2 separate regions of the Homo sapiens genome follow, and region 1 is linked to region 2. Evidence: fine-mapped expression QTL. A gene starts in region 2. The other region holds a variant in brackets. All regions are shown on one strand. Distances are between the middles of the regions.

Region 1 (15,946 bases), 180 kb after region 2:
GACTATGTATTTGGTAGATCTATGAGCCATTTCTATACTTTTTCTGTGAATGACATAACCATATCTGATGTCCCTTTGGACATTAGATTGGTTAGTCTTTTTCTCTCTTTTTTTTTTTTTTTACTTGGTAGGACTGTGTGCATCTGTGTGCCTTTATGACATGAAAATTCTTCTCTGTTTTCTTTTAAAGTTTGGTTTTTCTTTTTAATATATTTGAATGACATTTTAAAATAGTCTTTTCTTTTATAGCATGTGTAAGTTGGGTATAATAAATAATACCTTTCCGACTCTGAAATTAAAAACATTTCTTTATTTTTATTTTATTTTATTTATTTATTTATTTTATTATACTTTAAGTTCTAGGGTACATGTGCACAATGTGCAGGTTTGTTACATATGTATACATGTGCCATGTTGGTGTGCTGTACCCATTAACTCGTCATTTACATTAGGTATATCTCCTAATGCTATCCCTCCCTCAGCCCCCTACCCCATGACAGGCCCCAGTGTGTGATGTTCCTCACCCTGTGTCCAAGTATTCTCATTGTTCAGTTCCCACCTATGAGTGAGAACATGCAGTGTTTGGTTTTCTGTCCTTGCGATAGTTTGCTCAGAATGATGGTTTCCAGCTTTATCCATGTCCCTACAAAGGACATGAAGTCATCCTTTTTTTATGACTGCATAGTATTCCATGGTGTATATGTGCCACATTTTCTTAATCCAGTCTATCATTGATGGACTTTTGGGTTGGTTCCAAGTCTTTGCTATTGTGAATAGTGCTGCAATAAGCATACATGTGCATGTGTCTTTATAGCAGCATGATTTATAATCCTTTGGGTATATACCCAGTAATGGGATGGCTGGGTCAAATGGTATTTCTAGTTCTAGACTCTTGACGAGTGGCCACACTGTCTTGCACAATGGTTGAACTAGTTTACAGTCCCACCTACAGTGTAAAAGTGTTCCTGTTTCTCCACATCCTCTCCAGCACCTGTTGTTTCCTGACTTTTTAATTATCGCCATTCTAACTGGTATGAGATGGTATCTCATTGTGGTTTTGATTTGCATTTCTCTGATGGCCAGTGATGATGAGCATTTTTTCATGTGTCTTTTGGCTGCATAAATGTCTTCTTTTGAGAAGTGTCTGTTCATATTCTTTGCCCACTTTTTGATGGGGTTGCTTGATTTTTTTCTTGTAAATTTGTTTAAGTTCTTTGTAGATTCTGGATATCAGCCCTTTGTCAGATGGGTAGATTGCAAAAATTTTCTCCTATTCTGTAGGTTGCCTGTTCACTCTGATGGTAGTTTCTTTTGCTGTGCAGAAGCTCTTTAGTTTAATTAGATCCCATTTGTCAATTTTGGCTTTTGTTGCCATTGTTTTTGGTGTTTTAGTCATGAACTCCTTGCCCATGCCTATGTCCTGAATGGTATTGCCTAGGTTTTCTTTTAGGGTTTTTGTGGTTTTAGGTCTAACATTTCAGTGTTTAATCCATCTTGAATTAATTTTTTTGTATAAGGTGTAAGGAAGGGATCCAGTTTCAGCTTTCTACATATGGCTAGCCAGTTTTCCCAGCACCATTTGTTGAATAGGGAATCCTCTCCCCATTTCTGTTTTTGGCAGGTTTGTCAAAGATCAGATGGTTATAAATGTGTGGTATTATTTCTGAGGGCTCTGTTCTGTTCCATTGGTCTATATCTCTGTTTTGGTACCAGTACGCTGCTGTTTTGGTTACTGTAGCTCGGTAGTATAGTTTGAAGTCAGGTAGCATGATGCCTCCAGCTTTGTTCTTTTGGCTTAGGATTGACTTGGCAATGCAGGCTCTTTTTTGGTTCCATATGAACTTTAACGTAGGTTTTTCCAATTCTGTGAAGAAAGTCATTGGTAGCTTGATGGGAATGGCATTGAATCTATAAATTACCTTGGGCAGTATGCCCATTTTCACGATATTGATTCTTCCTATCCATGAGCATGGAATGTCCTTCCATTTGTTTGTGTCCTCTTTTATGTTGTTGAGCACTGGTTTGTAGTTCTCCTTGAAGAGGTCCTTCACATCCCTTATAAGTTGGATTCCTAGGTATTGTATTCTCTTTGAAGCAATTGTGAATGGGAGTTCACTCATGATTTGGCTCTCTGTTTGTCTGTTACTGGTGTATAGGAATGCTTGTGATTTTTGCACATTGATTTTGTATCCTGAGACATTGCTGAAGTTGCTTATCAGCTTAAGGGGATTTTGGGCTGAGACAATGAGGTTTTCTAAATATACAATCATGTCATCTGCAAACAGGGACAATTTGACTTCCTCTTTTCCTAATGAAATACCCTTTCTTTCTTTCTCTCTCCTGCCTGATTGCCATGGCCAGGACTTCCAACACTATGTTGAATAGGAGTGGTGAGAGAGGGCATCCCTGTCTTGAGCCAGTTTTCAAAGGGAATGCTTCCAGTTTTTGCCCATTCAGTATGATATTGGCTGTGGGTTTGTCATAAATAGCTCTTATTATTTTGAGATACATCCCATCAATACCTAGTTTTTTCAGAGTTTTTAGCATGAAGGGCTGTTGAATTTTGTCAAAGGCCTTTTCTGCATCTATTGAGATAATCGTGGTTTTCGTCTTTGGTTCTCTTTATATGCTGGATTACATTTATTGATTTGCATTTGTTGAACCAGCCTTGCATCCCAGGGATGAAGCCAACTTGATCGTGGTGGATAAGCTTTTTGATGTGTTGCTGGATTCGGTTTGCCAGTATTTTATTGAGGATTTTTGCATCAATGTTCAGTAGGGATACTGGTCTAAAATTCTCTTTTTTTGTTGTATCTCTGCCAGGCTTTGGTATCAGGATGATGTTGGCCTCAAAAAATGAGTTAGGGAGGATTCCCTCTTTTTCCATTGATTGGAATAGTTTCAGAAGGAATGGTATCAGCTTCTCTTTGTACCTCTGGTAGAATTCAGCTGTGAATCCATCTGGTCCTGGAATTTTTTTGATTGGTAGCTGTTAATTATTGCCTCAATTTCAGAGCCTGTTATTGGTCTATTCAGGGATTCAAGTTCTTCCTGGTTTAGTCTTAGGAGGGTGTATGTGTCCAGAAATCTATCCATTTCTTCTAGATTTTCTAGTTTATTTGCGTAGAGGTGTTTATAGTATTCTCTGATGGTAGTTTGTATTTCTGTGGGATGGGTGGTGATATCCCCTTTATCATTTTTTATTGCGTCTATTTGATTCTTCTGTCTTTTCATCTTTATTAGTCTTGCTAGCGGTCTATCAATTTTGTTGATCTTTTCAAAAAACCGCTTCCTGGATTCATTGATTTTTTTTGAAGGGTTTTTTGTGTCTCTATCTCCCTTAGTTCTGCTCTGATCTTAGTTATTTCTTGCCTTCTGCTAGCTTTTGAATGTGTTTGCTCTTGCTTCTCTAGTTCTTTTAATTGTGATGTTAGGGTGTCAATTTTAGATCTTTCCTGCTTTCTCTTGTGGGCATTTAGTGCTATAAATTTCCCTCTATACACTGCTTTAAATATGTCCCAGAGATTCTGGTATGTTGTGTCTTTGTTCTCATTGGTTTCAAAGAACATCTTTATTTCTGCCTTCATTTCGTTATGTACCCAGTAGTCATTCAGCAGCAGGTTGTTCAGTTTCCATGTAGTTGTGTGGTTTTGAGTGAGTTTCTTAATCCTGAGTTCTAGTTTGATTGCACTGTGGTCTGAGAGACAGTTTGTTATAATTTCTGTTCTTTTACATTTGCTGAGGAGTGCTTTACTTCCAACTCTGTGATCAATTTTGGAATAAGTGCGATGTGGTGCTGAGAAGAATGTATATTCTGTTGATTTGGGGTGGAGAGTTCTGTAGATGTCTATTAGGTCCACTTGGTGCAGAGCTGAATTCAATTCCTGGATTTCCGTGTTAACTTTCTGTCTCGTTGATCTGTCTAATGTTGACAGTGGGGTGTTTAAAGTCTCCCATTATTATTGTGTGGGAGTCTAAGTCTCTTTGTAGGTCTCTAAGGTCTTGCTTTATGAATCTGGGTGCTCCTGTATTGGGTGCATATATATTTAGGATAGTTAGCTCTTCTTGTTGAATTGATCCCTTTACCATTATGTAATGGCCTTCTTTGTCTCTTTTGATCTTTGTTGGTTTAAAGTCTGTTTTGTCAGAGACTAGGATTGCAACCCCTGCTTTTTTTTGTTTCCCATTTGCTTGGTAGATCTTCCTCCATCCCTTTATTTTGAGCCTATGTGTGTCTCTGCATGTGAGATGGGTCTCCTGAATACAGCACACTGATGGGTCTTGACTCTTTATCCAAACTGCCAGTCTGTCTTTTAATTGGAGCATTTAGCCCATTTACTAAAATCTCTCAGCATTTGCTTGTCTGTAAAGGATTTTATTTCTCCTTCACTTATGAAGCTTAGTTTGGCTAGATATGAAATTCTGGGTTGAAAATTCTTTTCTTTAAGAATGGTGAATATTGGCCCCCACTCTCTTCTGGCTTGTAGAGTTTCTGCCGAGAGATCCGCTGTTAGTCTGATGGGCTTCCCTTTATGGGTAACATGACCTTTCTCTCTGGCTGCCCTTAAAATTTTTTCCTTCATTTCAGCTTTGGTGAATCTGACAATTACGTGTCTTGGGGTTGCTCTTCTTGAGGAGCATCTTTGTGGCGTTCTCTGTATTTCCTGAATTTGAATGTTGGCCTGCCTTGCTAGGTTGGGGAAGTTCTCTGGGATAATATACTGCAGAGTGTTTTCCAACTTGGTTCCGTTCTTCCCGTCACTTTCAGGTACACCAGTCAGACGTAGATTTGGTCTATTCACATAGTCTGCTATTTCTTGGAGGCTTTCTAGATTGGGGAAGTTCTCCTGGATAATATCCTGCAGAGTGTTTTCCAACTTGGTTCCATTCCCCCCGTCACTTTCAGGTACACCAATCAGACGTAGATTTGGTCTTTTCACATAGTCCCATATTTCTTGGAGGCTTTGTTCATTTCTTTTTACTCTTTTTTTCTCTAAACTTCTCGCTTTATTTCATTAGTTTAATCTTTAATCACTGATACCCTTACTTCCACTTGATCAAATCAGTACTGAAGCTTGTGCATGCGTCACGTAGTTCTTGTGCCATGGTTTTCAGCTCCATCAGGTCATTTAAAGTCTTCTCTACACTGTTTATTCTAGTTAGCCGTTTGTCGAATCTTTTTTCAAGGTTTTTAGCTCCTTTGCAATGGGTTTGAACATCCTCCTTTAGCTTGGAGAAGTTTGTTGTTACCAATCATCTGAAGCCTTCTTCTCTCAACTTGTAGAAGTCGTTCTCCATCCAGCTTTTTTCCGTTGCTGGCGAGGAGCTGTATTCCTTTGGAGGAGAAGAGGCATTCTGATTTTTAGAATTTTCAGCTTTCCTGCTCTGGTTTCTCCCCATCTTTGTGGTTTTATCTACCTTTGGTCTTTGATGATGGTGACGTACAGATGGGGTTTTGGTGTGGATGTCCTTTCTGTTTGTTAGTTTTCCTTCCAACAGTCAGGACCCTTAGCTGCAGGTCTGTTGGAGTTTGCTGGAGGTCCACTCCAGATCCTGTTTGCCTGGGTATCACCAGTGGAGGCTGCAGAACAGCAAATATTGCAGAATGACAAATATTGCTGCCTGATCGTTCCTGTGGAAGCGTCGTCTCAGAGGGGCACCCAGCTGTATGAGGTGTCAGTCAGCCCCTACTGGAAGGTGTCTCCCAGTTAGGCTTCTCGGGGGTCAGGGACCCACTTGAGGTGGCAGTCTGTCTGTTCTCAGATCTCAGACTCCATGCTGGGAGAACCACTACTCTCTTCAAAGCTGTCAGACAGGGACGTTTAAGTCTGCAGAAGTTTCTGCTGACTTTTGTTCAGCTATGCCCTGCCCCCGGAGGTGGAGTCTACAGAGGCGGGCAGGCCTCCTTGAGCTGTGGTGGGCTCCACCCAGTTCGAGCTTCCCGGCTGCTTTGTTTACCTACTCAAGCCTCAGCAATGGCGGACGGCCCTCCCCCAGCCTCACTGCCACTTTGCAGTCTGATCTCAGACTGCTGTGCTAGCAGTGAGCGAGGCTCTGTAGGCATGGGACCCTCTGAGCCAGGCGCAGGATATAATCTCTTGGTGTGCCGTTTGCTAAGACCGTTGGAAAAGCGCAGTATTAGGGTGGCGGTGTCCTGATTTTCCAGGTACCATCTGTCACAGCTTCCCTTGTCTAGGAAAGGGAATTCCCCGACCCCTTGCGCTTCCCAGGTGAGATGATGCCCCACCCTGCTCCGTGTGCTGCACCCACTGTCCGACAAGCCCCAGTGAGATGAACCTGGTACCTCAGTTGGAATGCAGAAATCACCCGTCTTCTGCATCGCTCACACTGGGAGCTGCAGCATGGAGCTGTTCCTATCTGGCCATCTTGGAACCTCCAATCAAAACATTTCTTTTAAGTTATCTTCTGGAACTCTTATAGTTTCATTTTTTGAAATCTTGAAGTCTTGATCCATCTGTTACTTATACTGAAAGTATGGACCCAACTTTATTCCCCACTGCATTGAGAGTTCACTGTTACCATATACTAAGATTATGAATTTGGTATTATTCCAGACTTTCTGTTCTCCTCTGTTCATCTAACTATCTATGTGCCAGTTTTAATCGTTGTCTTTTTTTTTTTGAGATAGGGTCTCACTCTGTTAGCAAAATTCTGTCAGTTGTGCAGTGGCATGATCATAGCTCATTGCAGACTTGAACTCCTGGGCTCAAGGGATCCTCTTGCCTCAGCCTTTCAAGTAGCTAATTTTACAGGCACGTGGCACCACACCCAGCTTTGCCCCCACTCCCCCGACTAGAGACAAGGTCTTGTGGAGTTGCCCAGGCTTGTCTCAAACTCCTGGCCTGAAGTCATCCTGCCTTGGCTTCCCAAAGTGTTAGGATTATAGGCATGAGCCACTGCACCCAGCTTAATCATTGAGTCTTTCTTGTGTTTTAACATGAGTCAGTTTAAAGTAATGTGTGTTTTAAACAAATGTGAATAAAGATGTACTTGGTCTGTAATCTTCTTGCACGTACTACATGGAGTACAAGTAATTGAAAAGACAAAAATCTCCTTCCTTGGCAACAGAAATAAGAGATGTGAGAGTAGTCAAAGCATCAATTATGAAGCACTAAAATAAGCAACAGGGAACTAACTGTATGGTTGAAAACTATTAAGGTTCAGGAAGGCAGTGCAGATAGTTTCCCTAAAACTTCTTTGTATAATGTTAATGCATCATTCATTCTTTCATTTTTTTAGAAAGTATTTGTTTATTATAATGTACCCTTTTTGGTATTATTGATGATTTCAGTAGTTTTTAAAGATGAAATTGCTTATTGAAAGACGAGTCCATATTTAAGATAAACACCACCATCCTGCCCAACTCCCCCCTCCCCCCCAGCGAGTAAGAAAAGGTGGGATGCCTGTAATCCCAGCACTTCAGGGGCTGAGGTGGGTAGATCACTTGAGGTCAGGAGTTTGAGACCAGCCTGGCCAACACGGTGAAACTCCATCTCTGCTAAAAATACAAAAATTTGCCAGGCATGGTGTGGCACATGCCTATAATTCCAATTACTCAGGAGGCCAAGGTGGGAGAATTGCTTGAACCTGGGAGGTGGAGGTTGCAGTGAGCACAGATTGTGCCACTGCAGCCTGGACCACAGAATGAGTGAGACTTCATCTTAAAAAAAAAAAAGAGAGAGAGACAAATATTATTTGAAAAAAAAATCAATTTTTTTAATCGTTTTTTAATCGTTTTCTTGTTGCCCAGGCTGGAGTGCAGTGGTGTAATCTTGGCTCACTGCCACCTCCACCTCACGGATTCAAGTGATTCTTCTGCCTCAGCCTCCTGAGTAGCTGGGATTACAGGCATATGCCACCACACCTGGCTAATTTTGTATTTTTAGTAGAGATGGAGTTTCTCCATGTTGGTCAGGCTAGTCTCAAACTCCCAACCTGAGGTGATCTGCCCGCCTCGGCCTCCCAAGGTGCTGGGATTACAAGCGTGAACCACTGCGCCCGGCCTTTTTTTTAATCTTAAAAAGTAAATCACATAGCACAGTGTCTGGCATTGTTGGTGCTCAGTATTTGAGCAAATGCAAGAATTGCATTTTCACTTTTTTCCCCACTGTATTAATGATCTTTTGAGTAGTTTATAACATATAACAATTAGAATTCTAGGAATTTAGGTGTGATCCAGACCTGAGATTCTCAGCGTGGTATTGTTGGATTCAATATAATAATGGTTGGCATAATTAGTATTTCAGCAACCTAATGGAAGTAATACAGTTACTCTTAGTAGATTGCTTTGCTTTGGATTAGAATTTTATTTGAATTCAGACCTCAAGATGTTCTGAATCTCAGGTTGGCAGTCTTTGAAAGATGATTTATTATTACTTAATAAATGCAGTCTGTCTGAAAGACAGATCCTTTAAGCATGGTATACATAGAAGAAAAACAACATAAGGAGGCTTAAGTGTGAAAAGGTTGGAGAATGTCCAACCTCACATGTTTTACATACAGGAAAATTGAGGCTCAGTTGATTTTATAACGGGTCTAAAGACACTCTTAGTTAAAGGTAGTGAAGACTTGAACTCATGTCTTCTGACTCCAGGGTCTCTGCAGTTGCCACTAGACAGCACCTTTATTTCTAGATATATCATTTGCTGATAATTAAAGGAAAAAAAGAGAATAGTGTTTTTAAGAAATTCCATTAAAATTAAGTACGCATTTTTTTGAAAGAATGTTTTATATATCATGTACCAGAATCTTTTTTTATAAAACATTTAAGATGTTTTATTACATGGAAAATGTTCAAACTATTGTTTCAGATACCAGATTGATATTTGGGTGGATCATGTAAAAACACTAAATGGCTGAGAAACTATGTGAAATGTTTGTTTTAACTATTATTACATCAGTGACACAGCCATCTACATTACTTGATTTTTCTTAAGATTTAAAAAAACTTTAGTAATAGTCAAATTTAAAAAACACTCAACAGGCTTTTTGGGTGATGTTATTCAAGTGTGTTCTTTTATTCCAAGCTTTCTGGTTTGTGTTAAGATGATTCATAGATTATTAGGGCTGAAAGAAATGAAAAGTTCCTTAAGACTAATTCATCTTACAGATGAAGAAAGCATGATAAGGAGAATATCTGCTGCCTCAACTCAAACCCAGATAGCTGGGCTCCAGTCTGGTGCATTTACCAATGTACTATTGTTGTTTTTACTTTATTACATTTTGTGTTAATACAGAACATTAGACTTCTTTTTTTTGCTTTACCACTAAAAAAATTAAATCCAGTAAGTTCTTACTTAACATCATTGATAGGTTCTTGGAAACTACTACTTTAAGTGAAATGACATATAACGAAATCAGTTTTATCATAGGCTGATTGATATAAACAAGAGTTAAGTTCTCACAACATATTTGTGGTTAGAGAAATATCACCAGACTTCTCAATAAAGACCCAAATTGTAATATTAAACATTGAAATAAATATGAGCTTACATGTACAATTAAGAAAGTTTAATAAAAACAAGATAATTGTTTACTCAATGTGGGGTGAATAAGTGAGTGATAGCAGTCATGGTGGTGGTGGGTTAAATCAAAGTATAAATGTTTGCAAAGTGAAAATTGTAAGCAGTACTTCCTACCACCACACAATTAAAAAACAAACAATAACAAATATGGTGGGCTCACTGAACACTTTTATACTGCATTGTTTATTGTTGTGCATTTGTGTAATGTATTAGTCTGTTTTTGCAGGGCTGTAAAGAGATACCTGAGACTGAGTAATTTATAAAGAAAAGA[G/A]GTTTAATTGGATAATAGTTCTGCAGGCTGTTCAGGATTTTGCTTCTGGGAAGGCCTCAGGAAGCTTACAGTCATGGCAGATGGCAAAGGGGAAGCAAGCACATCTTCACATGGCCAGCAGGAGAGAGAGAGCAAGCAGGGGAGGTGCTACACACTTTCAAACAGGCAAATCTTGTGAACACTCTATCAGGAGAACAGCAAGGGGGAAGTCTGCCCCCATGATTCAATCACCTCCCACCAGGCCCCTCCTCCAACACTGGGACTCCAATTCCACATGAGATTTGGGTGCAGACTCAGAGCCAAACCATATTATATGATTATTGTGCATTTTACAGATTTTAATTTTACATTCATTTGTATACATTCAGTCATTCATTTTCTAACCCACTTATTCCAGTTCAGGATTGAGGTTGGTCAGAGCCTATCCTAGCAGCTTAGGGAGCAAAGGCAAGAACCAACTCTGGACAGGATGTCATTCCATTCCAGGACACATGTGCACACGCGTGTGCGCACACACACACACACGACACCCATACTGGGACAACTTAGACCTGCCAGTGAACCTAATATGCATATCTTTTAAATGTGGGATGAAACTGGAGGACCTGGAGAAAACCAGTGCAGATATGGGCAGAACATGAGAACTCCACATAAGACAGTGGCCCAGGTGGGATTTGATTTTTTTTCTCATCAATATTATAACAAAATGATGTTGAACAAAACAACATTATTTGAGGACCCACTGAGTATATTTTCTTTTTTTTTTAACTTTCATTTTTTAAGTTCAGGGGTACACATGCAGGTTTGTTATGTAGGTAAACTGTGTCATGGGGGCTTGTCATACAGATTATTTCATCATCCAGATATGAAGCCTAGTACCTGTTAGTTATTTTTCCTGATCCTCTACCTCCTTCCACCTTCCACCCTCCACCCTCCACCCTTCACCCTTCGATAGGCTCCAGTGTGTGTTATTCCCCTCTATGTGTTCATGTGGTCTCATAATGTAGCTCCTACTTGTAAGTGAGAACATGCAGTATTTAATATCTGTTCCTGTGTTAGTTTGCTAAGGAAAATGGCCTCCAGCTCCATCCATGTCCCTGCAAAGGACATGATCTCATTCTTTTTTATGGCTGCATAGTATTCCATGCTGTATGTGTACCACATTTTCAACAAATGGTGCCGGGAAAACTAAATATCCCAGGTATCCAAAATATGCTGGCTCTGTCGGCACTCCAAGTGAAGCAAGACAAAAATTAGTCCCTTGGGAAGCCCTCTGAAAACGTAAAATGTTGGATGCACATTCCACTCACCTTTACCCCAAGGGAGAAGTTGTGATCTGGAATGCTCTCTCCCGGCACTAAGCTATGTGGCACTAAGCTATGCTGACTTAGGGGGGTGGTGTGGGTAAAGTGAAATTGTTCTTACATGTTTCAGTGTGGCCATTCTTGGCTTTGTGCTCATCTGGGATACTGCAACTTCTTAACTGGATTCTGGAATTCTCAAAAAGGTATTTTGGTCTGTATATCATTGTTAAATCAATGTATGAGTTAGGAATAAGGGCTGGGACTTCCTGTTCTACCATCTTGCTGGTGTCACCCAAGACTTCTTTTTTATTAAACTTTTTATTTTGATGGCCAGGCATGGTAGCTCATGCATGTAATCCCAATGCTTTGGGAGGTTGAAGTGGGAGGCCAGGAGCTTAAGACCAGCCTGGGCAACATAGCAAGATCCTGTCTCTACAATAAATTTTAAAATAATTAATAAAAATTTTATTTTGAGAAAATTGTAGATGCACATGCAGTTGTAAGAATTAATACAAAGAGATCCTATGGACCCTTTGCCTTGTTTATCTCTGGTAACACCTTGCAGAACTATAGTACAATATCACAACTAAGGTATTAATATAAATATGATACAGAACAGTTCTGTCACCATGAGAGTTCCTCATGTTGTGCTGTTATAGCCATACCCTTTCCCCTACCCCCAGCCCTGGATTGAGTGGAAATTCTGGTCCCCATATGGTCTCCACTGACACCATAGTGAGGTGACCTTGTTCCCACTAGTTCTGATTCTCCTTTATTCTCTCCTGACACCACTCCAGCACGGAGGTGGGGGGCATCCTATTACTGCTAGGTGGGGGTAGAAGTTTAGTGTCCCTACATGATCTCCACTGACACCACGGGGCTAGGATGAAAGTCCAAGCTGCCTACTCAGTTTTTTCTGACACTACCACATCAGGGAAGTTGGGGAGAGTTGTTACAGCTTTGCAAGGGTGAAAGTCCCTCTCTGCCTTTGATACATAGATAAAAGTGGGAGAACAGGTTTTTTTGTGTGTATTTGGCTGGACTAAGGTGTGTTTTGTCTAAATTTTATTTCTTGCTAGGCTGCTTCTTTCCTGGTTCTAAAAAGTGAATTTGTTATTTTTACAAGAAAATTTAAAAATTGGATAAGTACTTTATATATATATATTATTTTAAAAATACAGTTTTTGAGATGAGGTTTTGCTGTGTTGCCCAGGCTGGTCTTAAACTCCTGAGCTCAAGCAGCCCTTTTGCCTTAGCCTTCCAAAGTGCTGATTATAGGTGTGAGCCACTGCACCCAGCCCAGTACTTAATATTTATACAGTTCCAGTTAGTTGTTTTTATTAATAATATTGTGGATTCTTCCATAAGTTTCTGAATAATATATAATAGACTGAATAATAGACTAATGTGTAGTAAATTGTTAAATCATAATTAGATCATATAAGGAGAATTGTAAGAAAGTGTTTTGTGGGTTAAGTTCTTTCATCCTAAGGCTGTGCTTAAGTTTTTCTTTGTGTGAACCTAATATTTGAATTTATTTTCTTCCCACAAACAAAATTGTGAAAATAGCCAAGTGCATTATTTTTACATTTTTCCCAATGGGTGGTTTTACAGTGAGAAAAATCTCAGTCTCTCTCTCTCTCTATCTTTTTTAAAGAGACAGTGTGTCCAGGCTGGAGTGCAGAGTTGCCATTATAGCTCACTGCAGCCTTGAACTCCTCTGCTCAAGGGATCCTCCTACCTCAGCCTCCTGAGTAGCTGGGACTACAGGTGCATGCCACCATGCCCAGCTAAAGTTTTAATTTTTTATGGAGACAGCACCTTGCTGTATAGCCCAGGCTGGTTTTGAACTTGTGGCCTCAAGTGATCCTCCTGCCTTGGCCTCCCAAAGTGTTGGGATCACAGGTGTGAGCCACTGCACTGACCTCCATCTTTTCTTTTACTATGAGAGGGGAGACTGAGGTTCATTGAGCCTAGAAAATAGGTCTGAAATGAAGAAATGAAGTTCAATATCTTGACAGTTTCTTGTCTCTATCATGGTGTTAGAATATTTCAAGAATCTAAATGCCCAGAACTTCTTAAATGTATAGATATAAGAACAGTAGTTCTTGGTTTATTTGTTTTACTACTGAAAGGTAGTTATACTTGCTGACTGTAGCCAGATGCCTGGATACTGCCCCAACACCTGCCACTTACTGGCTGTGACTTTAAGCCAGTCATATCACCTGTGTCTTAGGGCCTTCAAGTGTAAAATGGGAATATTCATAGTCCCTACTTCTTGAGGGTCATTGTGAGGATTACTAAACTAATATATGCAAAGCATTTGGAACAAGCCTGATATCTAGTAAGGACTCTATGAGTTTTAGCCAGAATTATTATTGTTATTGTATTGTACTATTATTGTATTGTGAGCCGTTTGCAGGTATTGACTAGGAAGCAATAGGAATCCTGGCAGAGGAGTATTGTGGTGCAGTGTTTGGAAGCTGCTGCGGTAGACATTTCAGTATGTGTTTCTTCCTGCTGAGAGATCAGGTCACTTTTGTCATATGTCAGACTTATATAATCCATTTTTTGGTGTTTTTCTGTCGTAGGGAAATCATAACTAATGGAGTTTTTCTGAGAAGAATCATAACCAAGAAGAACGATCTTTATTTTACGAGCAACATTTTAACCCCACTTAAATAAACTAAAAATTGAAGATGACTCATTATCCTCACAAGGTGCTCTCAAACATCATTTTCACAGCAACTATTTTGTCTTACTTGGTAGAAATAGTCACAGTTGTGTCTTTATTGAAAAGCTGAGCCTTGAAAAAAATTTCTTCTAAATAAGCCAACTAAGTGAAATCTTCCTTATTATTAAGATGAGTGGTGAATGCGCTTCTGGGGAATTCCTGAACTCCCCAATCACTTCCCTGCACCACACTGACTCTGAGTCATATACAATGTGCACTGCCCTTGTTGTGAAGTCAACCTATTTCAAACTATTTAGGGGCCCTTGGATCACTATTAATAACCCCTGTGCCAGACTGTTCTTTGATTTGCATGACTCACTTTGGGCTCCAGAATCTTCTTGTTAAAGAAAATTTCTGGCAAAAGTATAAGTTACTGCATTTGTGTAAGGTTTAAAAAAAAAAGATGAATGATGAATTTATTCACCATACCCAGGTTTATATTCTTTGTTATTAAATACTTTCCATTTGCCTGTTTTAAAGAAAAAATAGCAGCCAGTCCTGAATTTGAAAACTCACTCGCACTTTTATTTGACTAAGGTACAAGCTTTCCAAAGGCATTTCCCAGTTCATCATAAATTGATCTTTAAAACATTTTTGAAAAACCTTTATTGCTGTTATTTCTGTTCATTATTGGTGTTTTGAGGAATATGTATTATTTACTATTTTGTATTCCTCCTTCTTCCTCTTGGAGGTGTGCTGGATGCTATGTCATGACCTGGGATTCTGCCTTTTTGGGGGCAAGACTGGACTAAGTGCATTTTCCCGTTGGTACTGTGTTCACCAAAAGGCAAACATCTTCCTGAAAAGTTCTTTGTCAGTAATTTTATTCATAAACATTCACCAAATTAAGAACCCTTCACATACATCATTATGTTAAATGTAGCAGGAAAAAAAGGACCAATAAAATGCACAAATTAATAAAATCAGTGCTTCCGTTCAACTCTAAGGGTAAGAGCAAGGTTGATTTTCACCACTGTTCAGGTTATGCTTTTTGAGCACATTAAAATACATCATTTTGGCCAGGCGTGGTGGCTCACGCCTGTAATCCCAGCACTTTGGGAGGCCGAGGTGGGCGGATCACGAGGTCAGGAGATCGAGAACATCCTGGCTGACACGGTGAAACCCCGTCTCTACTAAAAATATAAAAAATTAGCCAGGCATGGTGGTGGGAGCCTGTAGTCCCAGCTACTCGGGAGGCTGAGTCAGGAGAATGGCGTGAACCCGGGAGGCAGAGCTTGCAGTGAGCCGAGATGGCGCCACTGCACTCCAGCCTGGGGGACAGAGCGAGACTCTGTCTCAAAAAAAAAAAAAAAAAAAAAAATCTGTTCAGTAATGACTCTTTTTTTAGTGTGTCTTTTTCGTTTCCAAGGTGATTCTGAAACTGATCTTAAGAAGAAACCTCTAACAAATTATTTACCTATTTTTTTATTTTTTCATTGTTTTGCTGTTAGCTAACATTTTCTCTTTTTAGTTTTCCACAAGAGTTTATATTTTGCATTGTTGATTTTTGATTTCATAAGTAGTATATATTTGGCTTAAAAATTAGGCAGAACTAAGGGTCTGAGGGCCTTATCTGGAAGACCAGATTTGCAGTGAGCTGTGTGTAAAAGAAGAGGTGGAGTCACTTACAAATACTACCTGTTCGATTTGATCCCAACAACAGGGCAGCAGGAAGGGGGATTTCTGTAGCTCACATCAGTCTAGTAGCTAAAGATCATGCCAAGGATGCATTCCACCTGTCCCTGACCTTCAGGGACATGACCATGGTGGTCCAGTAGGCTCCCTTGGGTCACATGTACTCTTAACTAATACGTGGCCTCAGGCTACCCTGGGAGAGAACAAGGTCCCGGCTATGAGGCCCACACTGTCATCAGGATCTCCCTTGCTTTCATGTAGCTAAAAGTCAAGCACCCAGAGCCTGGGGAGCCAGGGCCTGTGCATTAGGCAAAGGCCGTGAGCAAAGTTGTCAAGGAGCAGGCATTGCCAGTGCCAGCCCTGCTTATCCTCAGAGCTATATCTAGGAATGGTGCTGCCACCAGTCCTTCCCACTTTGGTGTCCCCATCACCACCCTGTTCTGGGGTCTCTATGTTG
Region 2 (15,946 bases):
ACTCCTTTTCTCTAGGCACAAAGGTGAGGCTTACTCAGCAACACTTGTACCTAAAGATCTGTGACTACCTAGAGAGGTACTTTTAAAAAAATTTTCACAAACACACTGTATAACATAGTGGTGATCTGGCCAGAGTGACTTTGGAAAAGTCAAGGGTATACTTCTTAGTGCAGTTCCAAGCAAATTAGGGAGCTAGGAGCAGAGGTCCCCAAAAGGTTAGAACAACTCTGAGAAGGTATCATAAACTCAATTCAAACTAAGCAAAGGTTGGTGGTTAAAGCTGGAGTAGAGGAGGAAAGGAAAAGAGTGGGTCAACATACAAGACTTGAGGTAGCCGTGGTTTTATTGTTCACGGATGTCTGGGACAACACTGAAGTGATGATATCCTTAGAGGAGAGGAAGAGAGTAGGCTGGGTTCAGCCCTAGGCATAGAGGCCAGCAGGTCCTAGATAGGAGAAAGTTGTATATTAGATATTTAAAAATGGTGTGTGTGTGTGATATACCTTTGTAACAGACCTGTATGTATACCCCCGATTCTAAAATAAAAGTTGAAAAGGAAAAAAGAGAGGCCGGGCACAGTGGCTCACTCCTGTAATCTCAGCACTTTGGGAGGCTGAGGTGGGTGGATCACGAGGTCAGGAGTTCGAGACCAGCCTGGCCAACATGGTGAAACCCAGTCTCTACTAAAAATACAAAAATTAGCTGGGTGTGGTGGCGGGCACCTGTAATCCCAGCTACTTGGGAGGCAGAGAGAGGAGAACTGCTTGAACCTGGGAGGTGTAGGTTGCAGTGAGCCGAGATTGCACCACTGCACTCCAGCCTGGGTGACAGAGCAAGACTCTGTCTCAAAAAAAAAAAAAAAAAAAAAAAAAAGGAAAAAAGAAATGGTATGTGGTGTGTGTGTGTGTGTGTGTGTGTTTGTGTGTGTGTGTGTGTGTTGGAGAGCAGTCAACAGGATGCAGAAAGCAACAATTCCAGGAACTTTGATGACGGGGCAGACAAGTAGATTGGCTACACACAGTGGCAGTGATACAGAGAGACTAGAGACAATATCTGAACACACCAGCAGGCTGCACTGCCACTGGCAGGCATGTTTGTTCAATGAGAAAATGAATGAAGGGCTCAGGCCTGCAGATGATGCTGGGGTAGGGCTGGGAGAGGAAGGAACAAACCCTGCTCTGGGTACTGAGCACTCTGACACTAGTAGCCTGGCCCGACCTTGTCAGACAGCCTTCCGTTGGTCCCTCCCTAGGCCATTTCCCCACTGAGATCATGGCCCACTTCCAGCTACAGCATGTCCCAGAAACAGGCCATGACTAAATGTTACATATTGCATGTTACTGCCTGGGAGTTTCCTCCAGCTTCCAACTTACTCCTTCATCTCGGCTGCTACCGCAACTACTGACTGTTTTAACTTGCCTAAAGCATCCCCCTTGACCTGGGAAGGAGAATAGACTAGAAAAGACTAGTAAGGCCTGTTCCACTTCAATCTGGTGTTTGTAATCTCTGCAGTGCAGGTGTGCCTATCTGTCTTCAGCACAAGAAAGGTGTTAAATGAATTAAGCCAGCTGAGATGATTCATGCAGAAAAGCGTAGGTACCAATGGAAGGAAATTTTCTATGTCACCTTTATATTAACATAGGAGCAATATGGTGAAAAGACAAGGTGATATGTTTCAGAGAATGTGTGGAGGTATTTTTTGTTTTTTTTGTTTTTGTTTTTTGTTTTTGTTTTTCAGACACAGTTTCACTCTGTCACCCAGGCTGGCATGCTGTGGCATGATCTCCGTGCACTGCAACCTCTGCCTCCCGGATTCAAGCGATTCTTCTGCCTCAGCCTCCTGAGTAGCTGGGATTACAGGCGTCTGCTACCACGGCCAGCTAATTTTTGTGTTATTAGTAGAGATGGGGTTTCACCATGTGGGCCAGGCTGGTCACGAACTCCTGACCTCAAATGATCCGCCTGCCTTGGCCTCCCAAGGTGCTGGGATTACAGGAAAATGTGTGGAGTTTTAAATGTGATTCTAAGATCCTCTGACGTGCCTTCCACGGAAAGAAAGGATCAGGTGCCCTCCCCTTGAATCTGGACTGTGTGATTTGACCAGTAGAATATGGGCAGAATTCAAAGCATATTTGAATTCTGGGCCACGCTTTAAGAAAGTAGTGACTTTTACTTCTGGTTTCTTGGAACCCAGCCACCATGCTGTGAGGGGGCCAAACTCAGGGTTTGTTCCTTCCTCTCTCAGCCCTACCCCAGCAACATCTGCAGGTACATAGAAAAGCCACATGTGGGTGTTCTGGTTGACAGCCCCAGCTGCGGTCCCAGTGGAAAACCATCATCAACTATAGATGAGTGAGTCCTTACATGATTTGGGCTCCCAGCCTTTGAGGTGCCCTTAGCTGATACTGCATGGGGCAGAGACAGGATACTGAGCCCTGCCTGAACTAAATAAATTGTTGCTTGAAGCTGCTACATTTTGGGGTGCCATATTACACTGCAATATGTCTCAAATTCAGAATGCTATTGACAATTAGCCAAGAAAAGAAAGAATGAGAAGCAACAATTCCAGGAACTTGGGATGAAGGGACAGATAAATATTAATAGATTGGCCACACACAATGGCAGTGATACAGAGAGACTACAGAAAATTGTTCAGATATTGTCTGTAGTTTCTCTGTATCACTGCATTGTGTGTGGCCAATCTACTTGTCTGCCCCTTTATCCTCAGTTCCTGGAATTCTGGAATTGTTCCTCTTCAATACAGGTATACATAGCTGAAATTTTTAGTTTTTTTCCTCCTTTATAATTGGCAAGAGAAAAACAATGTTTTATGAAGTTTATAATGAAGTCTTTTGGAAAAGTTATTGGAAAGGAAAGATGAAGTGATTGCTAAGATGATGTCTGTCAAAACAGTCACAATTAAGAAGTGTTTAAAGAAGTCATTGTACTTGTTTAAAAAGCAATACTTGCCATCTTTCCCTTCTCCCCTAGCCCCCTCCTCCTTCTCTTGTGTGCAGAGATGTCACAAATTTATTTCCACTGCAAGGACATTCAAATAATAACTAACAAGTTACACTTCTAGGTTTTGTTACATATATAATATATTTGTATAGTTCAAAGAAAAGTATTCGATATTTAAGGTAAACAGGGTGGAATAAAACCAGGTTCTAGAACCTTTCCCACTCCTAAAAACTAATGAAATAAAATCTTATTTTCTCCAGAAGCCCATTAGACTGGGCAAAGCTAAGCTAATAGAGGATCTGGGTACAGTTTCCCAGATTAAATATGAACAAAATAAGAATAAATTATGTTAAAATTATGCCATTATTCGGGCGGATTACAAGGTCAGGAGATCGAGACCTTCCTGGCTAACACTGTGAAACTAAAAATACAAAAAAATTAGCCGGGCGTGGTGGCAGGTGCCTGTAGTCCCAGCTACTAGGGAGGCTGAGGCAGGAGAATGGCGTGAACCTGGGAGGCGGAGCTTGCAGTGAGCCGAGATGGCGCCACTGCACTCCAGCCTGGGTGACACAGCAAGACTCCATCTCAAAATAAAAATAAAAATAAAAAAATTATGCCACTATTATAGCTAAATAAACAAATAAATGGAACACTGTATTCAAAAGATAAAGGAAGAACTCAAGTTAGAAGAAAAATACCTCATGGAACAGAAGACTATTTCTATGAAGGCTTTGCACTACAGAAAAATGTAACATATTTTTCTGATGGGTTTTCTAATGGATGCCATTTTACTCATCCTGAGTCTTGGGAGTATAATAGCTTCCTCCATCTCCACAACTCCTAGATGGAGCAGCCACCCCGCTATTGATGCTCCCCTTGTGTCTGAACCTATTTCCCAGCTCCACCAATTCTACAGTAGTGTAATCCCACATCGTGGTGTGCTGCAGTCTTTCAGGTGGGGGCAATTCTTGGGGGCTCCCCACTGTGGCTGCAATTGGTTCACTTTTATCTTGTTGGTGACCACTGGATGCACAGAGAGGATGGGAACCTCTATGGGCTTGTCCCAGTCCTCACTCTCCTCCCCACTAGAGCTCTCCATGGGGTCCCAGGATGACTTAGTCATGAAAGCCCTGACTCATTGACGTGGCAGCTGACGTCTCTTCAAACGGGCTACCTGACAAGGACATGCCAAGGTTTGTAGAATCTGTATATTCTGTTAAAAAACCTTCAACTTACAGATGATAAAACACAGATTGAGTTGAAAGGGCAGACTGTAAAGCTATCTTGTCTTGTATTTTAATTAAGAATGAAATCAAGACTTAAATGATGCCATTACAAATTTAAGGAAAAAATTAGAATCAAAATACTAGATAGACTGGCTGACAACCAAATTTCTGGCATGGTGGAAAATGCGAATATCCCCAAGAAAAAAAAATTCAGAGACAAGATGATAGTTATAGAGAAAAAAGAAAAGTCATTACAAGCATAATTGGGTCCCTATTATTTACTTATTTATTTTTTTGAGATAGGGCCTTACTCTGAGGCTGGAGCGCAGTGGCATGATCATGACTCACTGCAGCCTTCAACTCCTGGGCTCAAGAGACCCTCCCACCTCAGCCCGAGTAGCTGGAACTACAGGTGTGCACCATCATGCTCGGCAAATTTTTCTTTTTATTCTTTGTATATATTTTTAATTTAATTTTATTCTTTAGAGACAGAGTCTCGCTCTATCACCCAGGCTGGAGTGCAGTGGTACCATCACAGTTCACTGCAGCCTTGACATCCCAGGCTCAAGTGATCCTCCCACCTCAGCCTCCTGAGTAGCTGGGACTGCAGGTGCATGCCACCATGCCCAGATAATTAAAAACTTTTTGTTTTTTGTAGAGACAGGGTCTCATTATGTTGACCAGGCTGGTTTTGAACTCCTGGCCTCAAGTGATCCCCCTACCTTGGCCTCCCAAAGTGCTGGGATTACGGATATGAGCCACCACACCCAGTTCCTATTATTTGTATTCAAAAAAAATTATTTAACACCATGTGCCATAAGACTTAAAAGAGGACAGGCACTGTGGCTCACACTTTGGGAGGTCAAGACAGGAGGACCACTTGAGCTTGGGATTTCAAGACTAGCCTGGGCAACTTAGTGAGACCTCGTCTCTACTAAAAATTAAAAAAATTAGCCAGGCATGGTGGCACGTGCCTGTAGTCCCAGCTACTTGGGAGGTTGGGGAGGGAGGATCACCTGAGCCTAGGAGGTCAATACTGCAGTGAGCCATGATTGTGCCACTGGACTCCAGTCTGGGCAACAGAGCAAGACCCTGTCTCAGGGGGATAAAAAAAAAGACTTAAAAAAGAATCTTTCCATACTTCATTAAGTATATTTTTGTTTCCTTATTTTTTTTCTTATTAGTTGAGAGTTTTCTTTTTTAATTGATACATGGTATCTGTACATGTATATGGAGTACATGTAATATTTCGATACATACATACAATGTATAGTGATCAATCATGGTAATTGGGATATCCATTACCTCAGACATTTATCATTTCTTTGTATTGAGAACATTTCAGATCTTCTCTGCTAGCTATTTTAAAATGTATAATAAATTATTTTTAACTATAGCCACCCCACTGTGCTATTGAACACTAGAACTTATTCATTCTATCTAACTGTATGTTTGTACCCATTAACCAATCCCTCTTCATTTCCCCCACTCACCCTTCCCAGCCTCTGGTAACCATCATTCTACTCTTTATCTCCATGAGATCAGCTTTTTTAGCTCTCACATATGAGTGAGAACATGTGATATTTGTCTTTCTGTGTCTGGCTTATTTCACTTAGCATAATATCCTTGATTCATATATTTTGTCTTAATGGGTAGGATCTCTTTTTATAAGGCTGAATAATATTCCATTATACCCATTTATTTGTCGGTTCATCCACTGATGAACACTTAGGTTGATTCCATATCTTGGCTATTATGAATAGTGCTGCAATGAACATGGGGGTACAGATATCTCTTCGCTATACTGATTTTCTTTTCTTTGGATAAATATGCAGTAGTGGTTGCTGGGTTGTATGGCAGTTCTATTTTTAGTTGTTTGAGAAACTTCCATACAGTTTTTCATAACGGCTGTACTAATTTACATTCCCACTGTCAGTGTACAAGAGTTTCCTTTTCTCTGCATCTTGGCCAGCATTTATCTTTTGTCTTTTTGATAACAGTCATTCTAACTGGGGTAAGATGATAGCTCATTGTGGTTTTGATTTGCATTTTCCAGATGATTAGTAATTTTGAGCATTTTTTCATATACCTGCTTGTTTCTTATATATAATTGATTACCTTTTTTTTTCTTTTGAGACAGGTTCTCTCTCTGTTGCCCAGGCTAGAGTGCAGTGGTGTGATCATGGCTCACTGCAGCCTTGAGCTCCAGGGCTCAAGTGGTCCTCCCACCTCAGCCTCCCAAGTAGCAGGGACTACAGAAATGCACCACCACACTCGGCTAATTTTTTATTTTTTGTAGAGACAGGATTTGGCCATGTTGTCCAGGCTGGTCTTGAACTCCTGGCCTCAAGCGATCCTCCTGCCTCTGTCTCTCAAAATGCTGGGGTCACAGGCACAAGCCACAGCACCTAGCCCACTTTGTAAAATATATTTCTACTGTTTTTTAGCAGCGTTTTAGGTGGCTAATACCTTAATAATTATTTTGACATTATTATGAAAACAAGTTGAGTTTCAAGCAATACTTTTATTACTGAACACATAAATATATTGGGAATTTTCAAAATGTTTTTTTTTTATTTGAGACGAAGTCTCACTCTGTTGCCCAGGCTGGAGTGCAGTGGAGCTATCTCAGCTCACTGCAAACTCCGCCTCACGGGTTCAAGCGATTCTCTTGCCTCAACCTCCCAAGTAGCTGGGACTACAGGCGTGTGCCACCACGCCTGGCTAATTTTTTTGTATTTTTGGTAGAGACAGGGTTTCACCATGTTGGCCAGGACAGTCTCGATCTCTTGACCTCATGATCTGCCTGCCTCGGCCTCCTAAAGTGCTGGGATTACAGGCGTGAGCCACCGCGCCCGGCCTCAGAATGCTATTCTAATAAAGTACAGTGTTTGGAAGTGCTTATTTCATGCATTTGTTATTCATTCATTCCCCTGTAAGTTCCATGAGGACAAAGATTTTGCAGATTTTTTTCGTTGCTACACATCCCTAGGCCAAGAATAGTACTTGGCCCATAGTGGGTATTCAGTAAATGTTGGTCAAATTTGCTAATCCCTTCATTTGACAAGCATTTAGTGAGCACTGTGCTAAGTCCCAGAGAAACAAAGAAGAGAAAGTCATTGTTGTTGCCTTCAAGGAGCTTAAGATATAGTAGAAGAAACACATAAATAGTGTGTAGTGATAAAAATAAATTCAGGGCCATGCAGTGGCTCATTCCTGTAATGCCAGCACTTTGGGAGGCCGAGGAGGGCAGATAACTTGAGGCCCGGAGTTCAAGACCAGTCTGGGCAACATGGCAAAACAAACTGTCTCTACCAAAAATACAAAAATTAGCCAAGCCTGATGGCACATGCCTGTAATCCCAGCTACTCAGAAGGCTGAGGCATGAGAATCGCTTGCACCCTGCAGGCAGAGGTTGCAGTGAACCAAGATTGTACCACTGTACTCTAACCTGGGCGAGAGCAAGAACTCTGTCTCAAAAAAAGAATTTAAAAAAATTCAGATATCATCAATAAAGGAGGGTAACTTCTATGGTGGGTGCTGGGGGCTAGATGAATTTTACAGGAAAATAAATGTCAAGAAAAGGGCATCATAATATAAGATATAATATAAGAAAGAAGAGGACATAGAAGGAAACTGGAGTTTGTGATTCTGGAATCTGTCCCATTCAAACTGCTCAAATCCGATAATGGTGAATTTGAAAGCATTATCTTTTTCCTGATGCTTGAACATTTCACTGCAATGGTGACTGGTAAAAATGTGTTGATAAAACAGACGCTTTTTAAAAAAAAATTTAATTTTAAATTTATTTTTAATTAAATGGAGGTGGGGTCTCACTTTACTGCCCACGCTGGTTTCAAACCCCTGGTTTCAAGAGATCCTCCCTCTTTGGCTTTTCAAAGTGCTGGGATTACAGGCATGAGCCACTGCGCCTGGCCTCATTTGCTTTAATCAGCTGCCTATTAATAGGCCCACTGTTCTTTATTTATTTATATTTTTTGATACAGGGTCTTTCTTTGTGGCCCTGGCTGGAGTGCAGTAGTGTGATCTCAGCTCACTCCAACCTCTGCCTCCCAGGCTCAAGTGATCCTCCCACCTCAGCCTCCTGAGTAGCTGGGACTACAAGCACGCACCACCACGCCCAGGTAGTTTTTCTAATTTTAGTAGAGATGGGGTTTTTGCCATTTTGCCCAGGCTGGTCTCGAACTCCTGACTTCAGGTGATACGCTAGCCTCCCAAAGTGCTGGGATTATAGACGTGAGCCACCACAGCCGGCTGGCCCACCGCTCTTTAAATATTCATTATTTTCAACTCCTATACAAATATTTTATTTTAAAGTAAATCCTAAAATGATTGTAGAGTGATGTGTGGATTTCCATGTCACTCAGGTGATTTCATGTACTGATACTATATACCTTGAGCAACTGAAAGTGCTGATTCAATTAAAAAACAATTTCCTTTCTGATAATTGTGACTTAGAAAAATTCATTCTATTTGGGGTTTACCAATGACTGAAAATCAGTTATGAGGAACAGTTACGGGAGGGATAAAGTTTTCAATTAACTTTAAGGATCTGAATCAAAGAGAATGAAATCTGACCACCCCAGAGTTCTTTCCAAAAGTATAAACTCATCCATTTATACCAAAGGATTTACCGTCCACCTACTTGCTGTTGGATGCTGGGACTACAGATATGCATGAGACACAGAGCCTGCCCTTCAACAATGCAATGTTTGGTAGATACAGACAGGCTAAAAAAAAAAATTCTAACATACCTACAATATCAGAGAAGAGAGGTACAAGAGAAGAGCACTCGCCTGCTCAGAGGAGTGTTAGAGAATGCCTCTCAAGGAGGTGATTTTTTTTCTTTTTTTTCTTGAGATGGAGTCTTGCTCTGCTGCCCAGGCTAGAGTGCAGTGGCTCGAACTCAGCTCACTGCAACCTCTGCCTCCCGAGTTCAAGCAATTCTCCTGCCTCAGCCTCCCAAGTAGCTGGGATTACAGGTGTGTGCCACCACGCCCAGCTAATTTTTGTATTTTTAGTAGAGATGGAGTTTCACCATGTTGGCCAGGCTGGTCTCAAACTCGTGACCTCGTGGTCTGCCCGCTTCGGCCTCCCGAAGTGCTGAGGTTACAGGTGTGAGCCACCACACCCGGCCAAGAAGGTGATTTTTGAATGCCGTGAAAGATTATTTGTTCACCAGGCGAGAGAAGGGTAGCCTGAAGGGAGAGAGAATAGCCTATGGAAAGACACAGAGGTAGGCAGCTTGACCCTTGGTATGGCTGGTGGGAAAGTAAGGTATTCATTCAAAATATTCAACAATTTCTGGTCAACTTCTTTCAGTCAATGATGGACAGGTGGACTGCATATACAACGGTGGTCCCATAAGATTATACAGTTCTTTAAGCCGGGCGCCTGCAATCCCAGCACTTTGGGAGGCCGAGGTGGTGGGGAGGGGCGGGGGGGGGGGGGGCCGGCGGGGAATCACTTGAGGTCAAGAGTTCGAGACCAGCGTGGCCAACATGGTCAAACCCCGTCTCTACTAAAAATACAAAAATTAGCTGGACGTGGTGGCATGTGCCTGTAATCCCAGCTACCAGGGAGGCTGAGGCAGGAAAATTGCTTGAACTCGGGAGGTGGAGGTTGCAGTGAGCTGAGATTGTGCTACTGCATTTCAGCCTGGGTGACAGAGCGAGACTTCGTCTCAAAAAAAAAAAAGATTATATAGTTCTTTTACTGTAGGTTTTCTGTTTAGGTACAAATACCCTTGTGTTGCAAAATTGCCTACAGTATTAGTACAGTAACACACTGTACAGGTTTGCAGCCTAGGCGCAATAGCTATATACCATATAGCCAAAGCAAGTAGTTGGCTAGACTACCTAGGTTTGCGTAAGAACACGCTATGATGTGCGCAAAACAACAAAAATCGCTTAATGACACGTTCCTCAGAACATATCCTTGTGGCTAGGTAAGGCATGACTGTATTAGAATGCTGACTGGGTGCGTAAGCCGCTAGAAGGAGCACAGCAAATTTAGGGAGGATGCAACATGTTAAATCCGAGGGAACTGGCAGAGGTGAAAAGGGGGGAAAGGAGCATAGGAAAGAGTTCTGGGAGGAAAAATATAGCTGTAGCTAACATTGTACCAGGAGAGGTACTACATACCCGGTCCTATTTAAAGGGCTTCATATGTATTGTCACATTTAAATACGAACTATCTATCACATGTAGTCTCCTCTTGATGCACAGGATAAGTAACATGCCCGTGGTCTCCTCACCAGTTAGCAAGCGGATATCCAGCCTTGGTTATCTGACTCTGGCGCCCTTGCGGTTAACCAGGACACACACTACCTTCCCAGGTGCAGACATGAGATTGGTTTTAGATGATGACTGAAATCACCGGCCTGGGAGACATTTCTCAGTCAGAGAAGTGACACTGGGAAGAAACCCTAGAAATAACGTTGCAAACGAGTAAGTTTGTGAAAACACACTAATAGTTCTATTTCGAAATTTCTTTGTCAGATTATTTTTGGTGCCGGTTACTAAACGAAGTGTTCAGTTTCATTGAGCTTAACTGGGTTGAAGTTATCTAGACAAAAGTAATCCACATCAAAACCAGGACGAATTAAGACGTAATTTCTGTTTTCTGGCACTCTTGCCTCATAAATCTAGGATTCAGGGCATTGTTTTCAATGGTTCTCATTTTTGGCTCCAAGGATTCTTTTTCATGTGACTAATATTTTCGGTAGAAGAGGAGGTCTGGCCACGCCGCGGGTCTTGGCGAGCAGGTGATCACGGATCCCTGGTGTTTGCTGGGCGAGACGGTGAAGCAACCTCCTCCCCGCCCCCTCCCCCGTCTAGAAAGGTGCAAGATCCGCTAAACCGTGCGTTGCACAGCGGCGGCCGGAGCAGACGCGGGATGGTCGCGCGTCCCCTGCACAGCACAGAGGGGCAGCCGGAGAGCCTGGGAAAGGTACGAGCGGGGAATCAGAGCACAGGGTGCGGACCAGAAAGAGCAGACGGTCAGTCGGGCGGGGAAGGAAGTTGCCGAGTTGCAGGTGTGGAAGGGGCTGCCCCAGGCCCACCCTTGGCAGACGAGGGGGCGGGGAGTCGCGCCGGGGACGAGGAGACTGCGGACCGGGCGCGCTCCTTGCGCAGTCGCTCGCCCGCGTGCCCAAGCCCCCCGGGAATGGCCCTCGCCCAGGGGCCCAGCTCGCCGCCGCTAGCCCCGCAGAGCCTGCAGCTGCTGGGGCCCGGCAGCCGCCAGGGGGCGGGAGCTGCGTCGCGAACAATGGCCGCGCTTGGTCGCGGGCCGGCGGGAGGCGGAGTGGAGGTAGAGCCGGTGCCGGGCGCGCGCGCCGGCCGGGCGTGCTGGGGCGCGGGAGCGGCTGCGCAGGCGGGGGCGCGCGGCGCGAGCGCGGGAGGGCGCGGCGGGAGCGCCGGGGAGGCGGGCGGAGGCGGGCGGAGGCGGGGGGCGGGGAGCCCGAGGGGTGGAAGCCGGCGGCGGCCGAGCGGGGTCAGTTCTCTGTAGTGTTTGCCAATGTTGGAGCCGTCTGCAAAGTGTCCCCGGCAAGAAGGTAAATACCCTCATCGGGGGCGTCCGGGAGACCCCGACTTCCGCGCCGCCGGCGAAGAAGGCAGAGGGCGCTGGGGAGCCCTGCAGTTCCGCAGCACGGGGAACCCGGAGAAAAGCAGCCCCCTTCGCGGCCTCCCCTCCCCCGCGCCTTCCCTCCCACATCGGGCTCTCGGGGCAGCAGCGGGGAGGGGAGACCGGCGGGGGAGGGAGGACAGGGAGGCGAAGGAATTGGGGTGGGGGGTGCGTGTGTGGTGGAGGGGGTGGGACGACACAGGTGTCCTGAGGGGAGGAGCCGGGAGGAAGGCGAGGAGGCCGGGCCAAGTGGGGGTGCGGAGGTCGGGGAGACAGGAACGCGGCTGCGGGCGCGGGAGGCTGGGGTTCTAGGGGGCCGGGGTGGTAGCGGCCGGAAGAGAGGACGGCGAGTGCAGCCACGGTGTGGCTGCGAGGGAGAGGGAGCGCCTAGAGTAGGGCAGGGGAGGGCGGCCCGGGGAGGGTCTGCGGGAAATGGGCCTGGGGGCGCTGGAGGCGGAGCGGCGGGGCCGGGGCGCGCCGGAGGGTGGCGGCGGCAGCTATTTCTGTAGAATGGGCTAGTGGTAAAGACGTAACTTGCCGAAATGGGGAGGGTAGGTGGGGCCGAGGGGACAAAATATATCCTATGACAGGCAAGTTCTGCTGTGGCTGTTACGAACTCCTACCGTGATGGCTCGGCTTAAAGGGGTAGTTGGCGGTAGTGACCTTGCCGGGGTGAAGGGAGTTGGGCGAGGAGACAAAGCTCAGTTACGGAATCCGCTGTGTGAGAGCAGGAACTCTAGTCTCTTCGGGGTCGAGCCGGGGGCTGTGGCTTGGGGGCTGGGGGTGCTCCGCAGAGGCCATTGAGAAGCACGCCACTCTGGGATTCTTAGGGAGGCGGTGGGGGTAATGGCCGTGGGATTCTGGAAGTCTTTGGAAATGTGTGTAGAATTTTGCATTTGTGAATAATTTTCTTTGGTAAGGGTCCATATTTGCTGTGATGTCCCCTTACCCCCATCCCCACTCCAAAGGGTTAAGAACTGCTTGAGCAGATAGAGAGGGACCATTCAATTAGGGTAGACCTGGGAATTTACCAAAGGATTTTAAAGTGGGTGGATCCTGCAGAAAGAAAGGCTAGAGATGATCCTTTAAAGATATTTTACTGTTAATTGAAAACGTTTTTTATTTAATGTTTGCTTTCACAATTTTGGTGAACTTTTGCTGAGCATTACTTGGCTTCTGATGCATCCTGTGTTTCAGACCAGCATCGTGAATACTTGAAATCAAAATTGTGATGGACAGGCAGGGTGATAGTAACCTTGGAGGAGAAAAGATTTCAACATTTCTCCAGGATATTTCTTCCCCGTCCTTGCTTTCTTTAGATGATTCAAGTACACTGTTGTGAACTCAGCTGCGGTGGAAAAATCTTATTTAATAAAACTACCAAAACCAAGACTTACTCTCCATCTCTGTTTTGTAGTATGGCCAGATTTTCATTGTTCAGTTTGTATCTTACTGCAAACAAGAGATATCACATAACACTTTAATTGTAGATTGCTGCATTTTGCAGCAGGCCTGTATTAAATTTGCGAAGCAGTTATGCCAAACTATCTGGTGTGTTTGTGTTTTCCTGCTATGGTTTCAAGTCAAGTCACTATTGCCATATTTTATTATATGGTAGGCTAGTCTGAAATTTATTCCTAAGTGATGATAAGTTGGTAGGATATGGTACATACTTGCTCACAAATTACTGCATTTTTCCCCATAAAAACCAGTGTTTTGTATTTGTAAGAATGTTGCTGTGTAATCCAAGTATGTATTGTTAATTTCAAATAAAATGCTGTGTAATTTTTAAATTTTAACTTTATTTGGAAATAATTTCAAGCTTACAGACAAATGGCAAGAATAAGAATAATACAAAGAAAATCTTTGTAACCTTTATTCAGATTCACCTGTTAACATTTTATGTATTTATTATTTGCTCTCTATCACACACAAAATATTTTTCCCCTGGACCATTTAAGGGTAAGTTACATACATTGTGATCCTTAACTCCTAAATACTTGAGCTTGGAAAACCATGCAAATTTTACATTTTAGCTTACTTGGCTTGTCTGGAATGAAGTGCTAGGAAGAGTGGCTTGGTTTGCTTTTCAACAAATAGTATGAATATAAAAAAAATCTAAGATAGTCATCAAGCTTTTAAATATACAAACAATCCAGAAATCGAGGCAGAGCGGTTTTCCTGTTTAGGTTCTAGAAGATATGGTAGGTTTTTTTTTTTTTTTCCTTTGTGCCTACCCTTCTCTTTATTCCTATTATTATCTTGTTTTGTGCACGTTCAGTGCTGGGAATCTGATCATTTATAGGTACAGATCATAATAAAGAGGGAAAACTCTAGATACTGCAAAATTGAATTCTCTTAGACTGCATAGTTTGAGACACGCACAGTATGATTATTCACATATAGATATATTTGTGCCTCTTATAGGTACACAAAATACTAGATGTCTAGAATCAGTAATAATTATCATTTTTATTTATGTGTGCATCGTTTGATTTTAAATAATCCTCCCCAAGTTCTATATAGGAGCTTTGCCATTATGTTGTCCTAGAGGTCAAGCCCTTGACTTTGTTCCAGGAAAAATTATAAGAAGGCAAATCTTTTATTTTTCACCAAGCTGATCATAGAAAATAAAAAAAATTGGCCAGGTGGGGTGGCTCATGCCTGTAATCCCAGCACTTTGGGAGGCCGAGGCAGGTGGATCAGGAGGTCAGGAGTTCGAGACCAGCCTGGCCAACATGGTGAAACCCCGTCTCTACTAAAAATACAAAAATTAGCTGGGTGTGGTGGTGCGCGCCTGTAATCCCAGCTACTCGGGAGGCTGAGGCAGGAGAATCGCTTGAACCCGGGAGGCAGAGGTTGCAGTGAGCTGAGATGGCGCCATTGCACTCCAGCCTGGGTGACAGAGTGAGACTCAGTCTCAAAAAAAAAAAAAAATGTCCGGGCATGGTGGCTCATGCTTGTAATCCCAGCACTTTGGGAGGCCGAGGTGGGTGAATCACCTGAGGGTTGGGGGTTCGAGACCAGCCTGACGAACATGGAGAAACCCCGTCTCTACTAAAAATGTAAAATTAGCCGGCCGTGGTGGCGCATGCCTGTAATCGCAGCTACTCAGGAGGCTGAGGCAGGAGAATCATTTGAAACCAGGAGGCGGATCTTGCGGTGAGCCGACATGGTGCCCATTGCACTCCAGCCTGGGCAGCAAGAGTGGAACTCCGTCTCAAAAAAAAAAAAAAAAAAAAAAATTAAAAAGAAGGCAAGTCTTTTTTAATTTGGTGTATAGTGAAGAAAAGACGACTTTGGGCCAGAATGAACCGTTCTAAACCTAGCAATGTGACTGTAGGCAAATAACCCAACCTCTAGAAAAATGGAGATAATGCCTACATCCCAAGATGATGAGGATTAAATGAGTTGATGTAAAAATGGCAAAATGTGGCACCTAGCGTATACAATTGGTGTCTGAAAAATGTTAGTTTCCTTTTTTTTTTTTCTGGCCTGTGTTATTTAGAGTTTTCCACTAGAATAGTTTGTGGCGTAAGACTTCTGTTTTCCTTACATAAAAGCAGTGTTTTTGGGTACCCACTTTGAAAAATCAAAATGAAAAACATTTTAAAAAGCTCTTTAAAGGACCGTATATCTTTTTTAGAGTAATAAGCATTGAATTGATAGTTTTGTAGCAGTTTGTAGTCTAAGAGTAGAGATAGTAAATTTTTTTTGCTTTTCATGTTGTCAAATAAGACATTTAAGTGAGAATTGCCTATCAACTGTAGGATGGGTGCTGATATAAAAAATTTATACATATTTAGTAACAGTGCCGTTTTATAAAGCAGTTTAATTATTGGGGATTATATAGATTTCTGTGCAGCTTTTAATTTCTCAGATGGGCAAAATGTAATTCATAATTAAAGTACGACTTATATCAGCAGTACATTGCAGTTACAGGTTGGGCCATTCTTCATGAGCATCACGTCTTCCCCAGCCGTCTCCCTATAATCCTGCTTGTTTTCATTTAGTAGTTTGGAATCTAGAATTGCCTGTCTTCATATGCCTGACCAGATAGGGCATTTTTGGGACGCATGGATACATTTCTCTAAAAGCGCTTAGTTGTAATT

Evidence for each region. PIP is the estimated chance that this variant, and not a neighbour inherited with it, causes the effect.
Region 1: its variant is the best candidate, but not a certain one, in a credible set for the expression of STAU2 in blood mononuclear cells (TOPMed, PIP 0.51).

Annotation. Positions count from the first base shown.
Region 1 is chr8:73,559,305-73,575,250 of GRCh38, reverse strand. The region is part of intron 12 of STAU2 (staufen double-stranded RNA binding protein 2); the gene reads left to right. Among named protein-coding and RNA genes, the nearest start is that of STAU2-AS1, 150 kb to the right of the region's middle. The variant G/A (reference allele first, on the strand shown) is at 9,817.
Region 2 is chr8:73,742,600-73,758,545 of GRCh38, reverse strand. It overlaps STAU2 (staufen double-stranded RNA binding protein 2), which reads left to right and starts at 11,706. Exons shown (of 15, transcript NM_001164380.2): 1 at 11,706-11,763. RefSeq lists silencers at 2,358-2,447, 11,204-11,493, 11,574-11,663, 11,954-12,133, 12,244-12,303.